Linked DNA regions of Homo sapiens. The protein of the gene in region 1 interacts with the protein of each later gene in a pairwise test. Each region holds a gene or a part of one and is shown on either strand. Other genes may lie near its edges.

Evidence for each region. The genes of interacting proteins can lie anywhere in the genome.
Region 2: the proteins of MAPK8IP3 (region 1) and RAD51D interact in binary tests that used the Homo sapiens proteins (3 or more experiments, as listed by UniProt).

The regions. Positions count from the first base shown.
Region 1 is NC_000016.10:1,745,045-1,748,794, forward strand, and holds part of MAPK8IP3 (C-Jun-amino-terminal kinase-interacting protein 3), read left to right. Parts: exon of another isoform or gene 1-1,545; coding exon of another isoform or gene 1,546-1,812; intron 1,813-1,984; coding exon 1,985-2,231; intron 2,232-3,199; coding exon 3,200-3,302; intron 3,303-3,557; coding exon 3,558-3,676; intron 3,677-3,750.
Region 2 is NC_000017.11:35,092,157-35,095,906, reverse strand, and holds the end of RAD51D (DNA repair protein RAD51 homolog 4), read left to right. Parts: 3' UTR 1-3,686; downstream 3,687-3,750. UniProt on the Homo sapiens protein: Involved in the homologous recombination repair (HRR) pathway of double-stranded DNA breaks arising during DNA replication or induced by DNA-damaging agents. Bind to single-stranded DNA (ssDNA) and has DNA-dependent ATPase activity.

The DNA of each region.
Region 1 (3,750 bases):
TGCATTTGGAGGTCACTGCTACACGTTGATGTTTAGGAGGTTGAGAGGTTTGCCTTTAGGTAAGTTGTGGCCAGGGGGAGTGTCCCATGGGTAAGTGGTGGCCCTGTAGGGTGACGGAGAGCTAGGGGAGGCGCAATCAGACTGCAGAATTCCCCGCAGCCACCATGAGGGTCAGGAGCAGGCCGGGGACCCAGCGTGGAGGAAGGTGGCCCAGAAGCGTTTGTCTGATGTGCACAGCTACACCCTGCCTGGCCACATGGGGTTCCCTGTTTTCTCTCTGCCGGGTGGTGGCAGAGTCGGTGAGACACCAGGTGCCTGTGACACATTGGGTAGACAGGTTCTTTGAGAACGTCAGCACAGACTTCTTGCATGAGCGGTACTCGCTTCCTCCAGCGTGGGGAGTGACATGAAGAGCAAGGGTTTTCCTTTCAAACTGGGCATAGCTGCAGAGCCACAGGCCGTCTCAGACATTTCTACAAAGCCACTCCGGGAGGCGGGCTGCGCCCGTGTGAGGGCTCTCCCTCGGCACTGCTCATCTTTTGGGGCTGGACATGCATGGCCTGGGCCGCTGGGACGCGGTGGGTGTGGAGCAGCATCCCTGGCTTCCACCCACGAAAGCCAGGAGCACCCCCTTCATTTGTGACCACAAAAATGTCTCTGGACTTTGCAAGCATCCCCTCGGGGCAGTCAGCCCAACTGAGAATAGCTACTATAGAGGAAGGTGTGTCATTTTGAGATTCCTTCTAGAGAAACTTAGGAGCCTGGTAGATGAAGCAGAAATGTGTCCTCTGAGTGAGTGGCCGTGTCCGGTACTGAGAGGCCCCGTGCCCTGAGTCTGGCGGTGACCAGAGAGGCTGGGCAGAGGCAGAGGTCAGCACTGGCCATGACTTCTGGAAGTCCCGTCTGCCCTGGTCACTTAAAGGCCAGTATAAGTCAGCTGTGGAGAGGGCTGGATACCCCCTCGACAGCTCCTCCCTGGGTGAGATCCTTAGCATTAGAGTCCCCCACGGTGCGCCCTCTGAGAGACCACGGGAACCCACCCAGCGGCTGCCTGGGACAGGCACAGGAGCCACCTGGGTGCCTCTGAGGCCTTGCACTTTCCCACACCTCAAGGAGGGCCGGGGGCCACGGGCAAGCTCTGCCATAGCGGGTGATCAGGTCAGCTAAGACGAGAACGTTTGGGGCTCTTTTTCTCCAGCTGGTTCAGTATCTTTGTTAGGAAAGACCATTGGAAAGAATGTTTGTTTCGCATTCCGCATTAGTCACATAGAATGCGCTCCTCCCTAGCGAGCTTCCTGAGGTAGACGGCTGGTTGCGGTTTCTCGTAATCCGGGCTGCCCCCACCCTCCAGAATGTCTTGGTGGCGTCCCTTTCTGTGAGCAGGGATTGTGGTTTCTTTGCGCTTGCTCATGTTCAGGGGTGAGCTCTGGTCCAGTCAAGCCACAGGGTCAGCACCTTCTGGTCACTCCCTGGCCCTGACCTGAGCCCGGGGAGGAACGTGGGGCAGGCGCGGGTGGGCCCAGCCTCGAGCTCTTCAGCACAGTGATGGTGACGGGGCAGCGGTGGCGGCACAGCCAGCCCTTCTTGGGTCCCCAGTCAGAGCCCTCTGCCCTACCTGGGCTGGACTTGTTTCTGAACAGCCACAAGCTACAGGGGGCTGCCGCTGTGTCCCTGGCGAGGCACTGGCCCATTACAAGCAATCGTCTGGGGAGGGCACCAGTGGAAAGCCCCGTTCCAAGCCATTTCAGGAGGGTGGCCCTGCTTCCGAGGAGCCGGAGTCAGTGGCCGGATAAGCAGAGCCACTCGGGAGTGGTGAGGCCCGGAAGGGTTAGCCCGGTGGGCGGCAGAGGAGCTCTGGCCCGCAGGGTGTCGGGCGAGGCAAAGTGCAAAGCATTGGTGCGCGGGGCCTCAGGCAGCCACGGCGGAGCCGCAGGCCAGGGACCTGCAGTGACTCGCTCTCCCTCCTCCCTGTGTTTGGCCTTAGTGTCCACAGGATGAAATGTCCGAGTCAGGCCAGTCCTCGGCGGCCGCCACACCCAGCACCACAGGCACCAAGTCCAACACGCCCACATCCTCCGTGCCCTCGGCCGCCGTCACACCCCTCAACGAGAGCCTGCAGCCCCTGGGGGACTATGGCGTGGGCTCCAAGAACAGCAAGCGTGCCCGGGAGAAGCGCGACAGCCGCAACATGGAAGTACAGGTCACCCAGGAGATGCGCAACGTCAGTATAGGTGGGTGCCCACCTCCGGGACTCTGGGCTCCCTCGGGCAGGAGGCAGGGCTTGGTTTGGGTAGATGTGAAACTAATGCACCAGGCGGGCAGTGCAGGCAGCAGAGACGTGTTCCTCACAGCCCGGAGGCTGGGGTCCAAGATCAAGGCGCTGGCAGGGTAGGTTCCTCCTGCGGCCACTCCTTGGCTTGTAGACACCACCTTCTCCCTGTGTCCTCAACAGGCATCCCCTGGGTGTGTCTGTGTCCTCATCTCCAGCTCCTACAAGGACATAGCCCCATTGGATTAGAGCCACCACGTGACCTCATTTTACCATAATCACCTCTTGAAAGGCCCAGCCTCCAAATACAGTCATGCTAGGGGGTATCTATTAACATATGGATTTGGGGAGACACAACTAAGGCAGTAGCCTGCGTCACCCCACGGCACACAGCCCCACTAACCAGTAACCTGCATCGCCCCACGGCACACAGCCCCACTAACCAGTAACCTGCATCGCCCCACGGCACACAGCCCCACTAACCAGTAACCTGCATCGCCCCACGGCACACAGTCCCACTAACCAGTAGCCTACGTCACCCCATGGCACACAGCCCCACTAACCAGTAACCTGCGTTGCCCCACGGCACACAGGCCAGTGAGGGAAAGAGAAGAGGGGAATGAGGGCCGAGAGGAGGTCCAGCCACTGGCTTGCTTGGACGTGGGATCTCTGGGGACTGGGCTTACTGCTGACACTCCCATGCAGAGAGGCTGCTGCAACCCACCCCGCTCCAGGCCCCGCCTCAGACGTCTACTGTGCTGGGGTTCGACCTCTGCCCAGTCAGCCTGGGAAGAGCTGTTTTCTGATCATCCCCACCTAGCAGGTGGTCCAGCTCCAGCCCACCAGACTCAGGTTCCGAGGGCAGCCGTGAGCAGGGCAGAGGCTGCCAGACCCTCTCCTGACCCCAGGTGCCCCTGTGCTCTCCCCTAGGCATGGGCAGCAGTGACGAGTGGTCTGATGTTCAAGACATTATTGACTCCACGCCAGAGCTGGACATGTGTCCAGAGACCCGCCTGGACCGCACAGGAAGCAGGTACTGGCTCAGCCCAGGCCCTGGGGTCCTGGGGGCTCAGTATTTATCCAAGTCGGTGTCTTTGGTGAAGTCTTCCTCTGCCACCACTGGGAGAACCATCAAGGCTGTGGCCTACCGCCTCCATCCACGACCGGCCTGCAGGGCAGTGTGGGCATTGAATGGCCACGGTGGGAGGTGTTGGAAGAGTCTGCAGACGCAGCCACTCCGGGCTGCCCACTGACTCTGCTCTCTCTCCCGACCTGTGGATCCCAACAGCCCAACCCAGGGCATCGTGAACAAAGCTTTCGGCATCAACACCGACTCCCTGTACCATGAGCTGTCGACGGCAGGGTCTGAGGTCATCGGGGATGTGGACGAAGGGGCCGACCTCCTAGGTAAGCGCAAGCCTTCCCCCGCACCGCTGTGCCTGCACAATGCTGGGGCTTTCTGCTGTTGGTTTTGTTTGTAA
Region 2 (3,750 bases), on another chromosome or scaffold:
CTGTTACAAAAGTATACTCCTAAATTAGGTTTTCAGTTAGTTTGCATACTAAGGCTGCAGTTTGTTAAGGGCCCAAGTAAAGCCTCCTCAGGTCAATTTTTTTTTTCTTTTTGAGATGGAGTCTTGCTCTTGCTCAGGCTGGAGTGCAGTGGCGTGATCTCAGCTCACTGCACCTCTGCCTCCCGGGTTCAAGTGATTCTCCTGCCTCAGCCTCCTGAGTAGCTGGGACTACGACTACAGGCGCCTGCCACTATGTCCGGCTAATTTTTTGTATTTTTAGTAGAGATGGGGTTTCATCATGTTGGCCATGGCTGGTCTCGAACTCCTGACCTCAGATGATCTGCCTGCCTCAGCCTCCCAAAGAACTGGGATTATAGGCATGACCCACTGTGACTAGCCCTCAGGCCAAATTTAGCTTTTGTTTGTTTGTTTGAGACGGAGTCTCTGTCACCTAGGCTGGAGTGCAGTGGCATGATCTTGGCTCACTGCAACCTCTGCTTCCTGGGTTCAAGCAATTCTGCCGCAGCCTCCCGAGTAGCTGGGATTACAAGCATGCGCCCCCATCCCCGGCTCTTTTTGTATTTTTAGTAGAGATGGGGTTTCACCATGTTGGCCAGACTGGTCTCAAACTCCTGACCTCAGGTGATTCACCTGCCTCTGCCTCCCAAAGTGCCTGGATTACAGGCGTGAGACACCACACCCGACCCCAAATTTAATTTAACAAAGGACTAACTCAGAACTAACTTCCAACCAAAGCTGACTCACCTCAAATCTCATTGGTGCAGAATTGCTTCATACACCCATGTGTAATACAGTAACTGGCAAGAAAAAGGGACTGCTGTGATTGACTCAAACCAACTAGGAAATAGCCCTGGAGCTGAGGCTGGGGACAGGCTTTCCTGAAGCACATGCTGGAGCCACTGAAAGAAAAATGGGAGTTCTCCTTTCTACTAGAAAGGAGAGTGTGTGGATGAACTGGATGCTGGGTGGGCAGCCTCTCACTAGTACTTACGGTAGTACCAAAGACGAGTTAATCAAGGCTCTATTATGTATCCTTAGGCCCTTGATGCATGTCTCATTATGACCTTAGGACAGCCTTGTGGCAGAGGGAATGATTCCATTTAATAGACAGTAAATGGGATCTCAGTGAGGTTAAGGACATAAAGCTAATAAGTGGCAGCACGGGAATCCAGACACATGTCTGCCTGATACCAAACCCATTTTTTCCCATCTGCACGCTGCCTTCTGCTGTAAATATGTAAATGTTTCCACAAAATTCTTTTTCATACTTTGCCCTGATAGCAGCAGGGGCTGCACATCCCAACCTCTTTTCAGCTTAGCTCACCATAAAAAGCGGGATCAGAGATCTACTTCTCAGCTCTTTCTGATTTCCCCCAGGGAAGTTACAAAAGAATGACAAAAACTTGGAGAAGGCAGATATCATTAGTATTAAAGAGAACTGGAGGTTTAGGGGGAAATAAAGCTGAATAAAAAACAGCAGGGCTGGCTGAGCGTGGTGGCTCACGCCTGTCATCTCAGCGCTCTGGGAGGCTGAGGTGGGTGGATCATTTGAAATCAGAAGTTCGAGACCAGCTTGGCCAACATGGCGAAACCCCATTTCTACTAAAAATACAAAAATTAGCCGGGCGTGGTGGCGGGTGCCTGTAGTTCCAGCTACTCAGAAGGCTGAGGCAGGAGAATCGCTTGAACCCGGGTGGTGGAAGTTGCAGTGAGCCAAGATCACACTACTGCACTCCAGTCTGGGTGACGGAACAAGACTCCATCTCAAAAAAACAAAACAAAACAGGGCCTATGCATCCCTGAGATGTGAAGCAGGGGGAGATAAGGGATTTAGATGTATATCCTACTAGGTTTTTGCTGTGTTCTGCCATGCAGTTGTCTGGGCAGGATTTATTTATATTTTAATTTATTTCAGGGGCCATGCTAATCATCTTTGTATTGTTCCAATTTTAGTGTATGTGCTGCTGAAGCAAGCACTGGGTAAGGTTTAAACTGTCTAGTTCTGTGTGCTGGGGTTTGGCATTGGAGAAGGCTCTGTGATGCATAGACCTTAAATTAGAGTTAGGTATATTATTAATCCAAAGTGATCCTGAATGCTTTCTATCATTTTTTTCTTGTCCTATTGCACTGGCTAAACTGACTTTTAGTACTACACAGAATAGAAGCAACAATAACAATCATCCTTGTCTTGTTCCTAACTTTAGTGGACTATTTACAATATTTTACTGAGTTAGATGCCTTAGGTTCCACGTAGCTGCTCTTTATGAAAGACCTCACTGGGTTACCCTTCAGTCTTGGAGGAGTCTGGGTATTGGCCATGACATTTGCCATGAATGATGGAGTTCTCTCTGCCAGGTCCTCATGCCCTGGAGCTGTACGGCTGCACTTCAGCTGCTGCACATTTGACTTTTTGAGTAGCCCTTGAATCTCTGCTCTTCCTTGGCCTCTCTATAGTTTTTGGTATAATAGCCTCAGCTTAAGTTTGAGTTTTGTAGGAAAACAATGGGCCTGTGCTGACAAAGATACAAAGTCAAGGAACAGGATTTTTTATATCTCAACTAACTTGGTCCTAGCTTTGACATTTACTTGCCATATAACAATGGATGAATAACAGTCTCTTTAAGCCTTAGTTTCATCCACCGTGAAATGGGAAAAATAATATCTGTTTCATAGAGTTGTTTTAGGATCATGTAACTTATGTAAAACACTGAATAGTTTTCCAGGCATGATATAGGCACTCAATCTCATATTATGAATAAGCTTATGATGCATGGGGGATACTGATGACAGCTTTCTTCTGTCCAGGCAGGCCCAGCTACATGGTGGTATGACCAGTGCAGTCACACAGCCCCATGCTTAGCAGGGCTCTGCACTTAGTTTAATGCTCTGCTGTTGCCATCTTGAAGTTCTTAATTTTTAAACAAGCATCCCATATTTTGCACTGTTTCTTGCAAACAGTGTAGCCAGTTCTGTCTCCAGGAATGGATCCAGCACTAGTACTGGCCCTTCTCTTTGGGAAACATCCTTCCATTGATTTCTTAGGGAGTAAATCCCTTGAAGAGTAACCTCCCATAGAAAAATTAGGGTTAGCACCCTGTGTATGTTTATCTCTAACTGTTCCATTCTCAGTAACCTACACATCCTCTCTCATTAAAAAAACAAAACAAAACAAAAAACACTTTATATTTTACAGAAGCTATTAGATCCAGAGAGGTTGGTAGGGGTGCTGGTGAAATGGAATGGTGATTTGGGATTTTGGAATCAGGAAAAAGATCTAAGTTCAAAACCCTGCTAGTCCCTTTCTGGCCGAGTTACTTGGACAAGGTAATGTCTCTGTCCTACTGGTAAAGTGTATGTTGCAGGGGAATTACATTCTTTGTTGGTAAAATATATGCCTCAGGGGAATTAAACAGATAATTTATGTAAAGTGCCTTTCACAGAGAGTCTGGCACATAGTAGGTGGTCGGTCACTATTAATTCTTCCAGCTCTTGCCAGAAATAACTAAAATCAGGGCACTAGGACTTCCAAGCCGTGCTGCTACTAATAAAAGAAATAATATGATTTATTTTTTCACAACTGTTTGGGGAAAGGCCTGTGCTTCATAAATATGCGTTGGAAAGTACTTAGCAAATGAGTAGAAATAATAAAAATATGTCCAAGTAAACAGCTCCTATAAATATGTCACTTGGTAGACAAATTAGTGTTTTATCACTACTAAATACTATTGC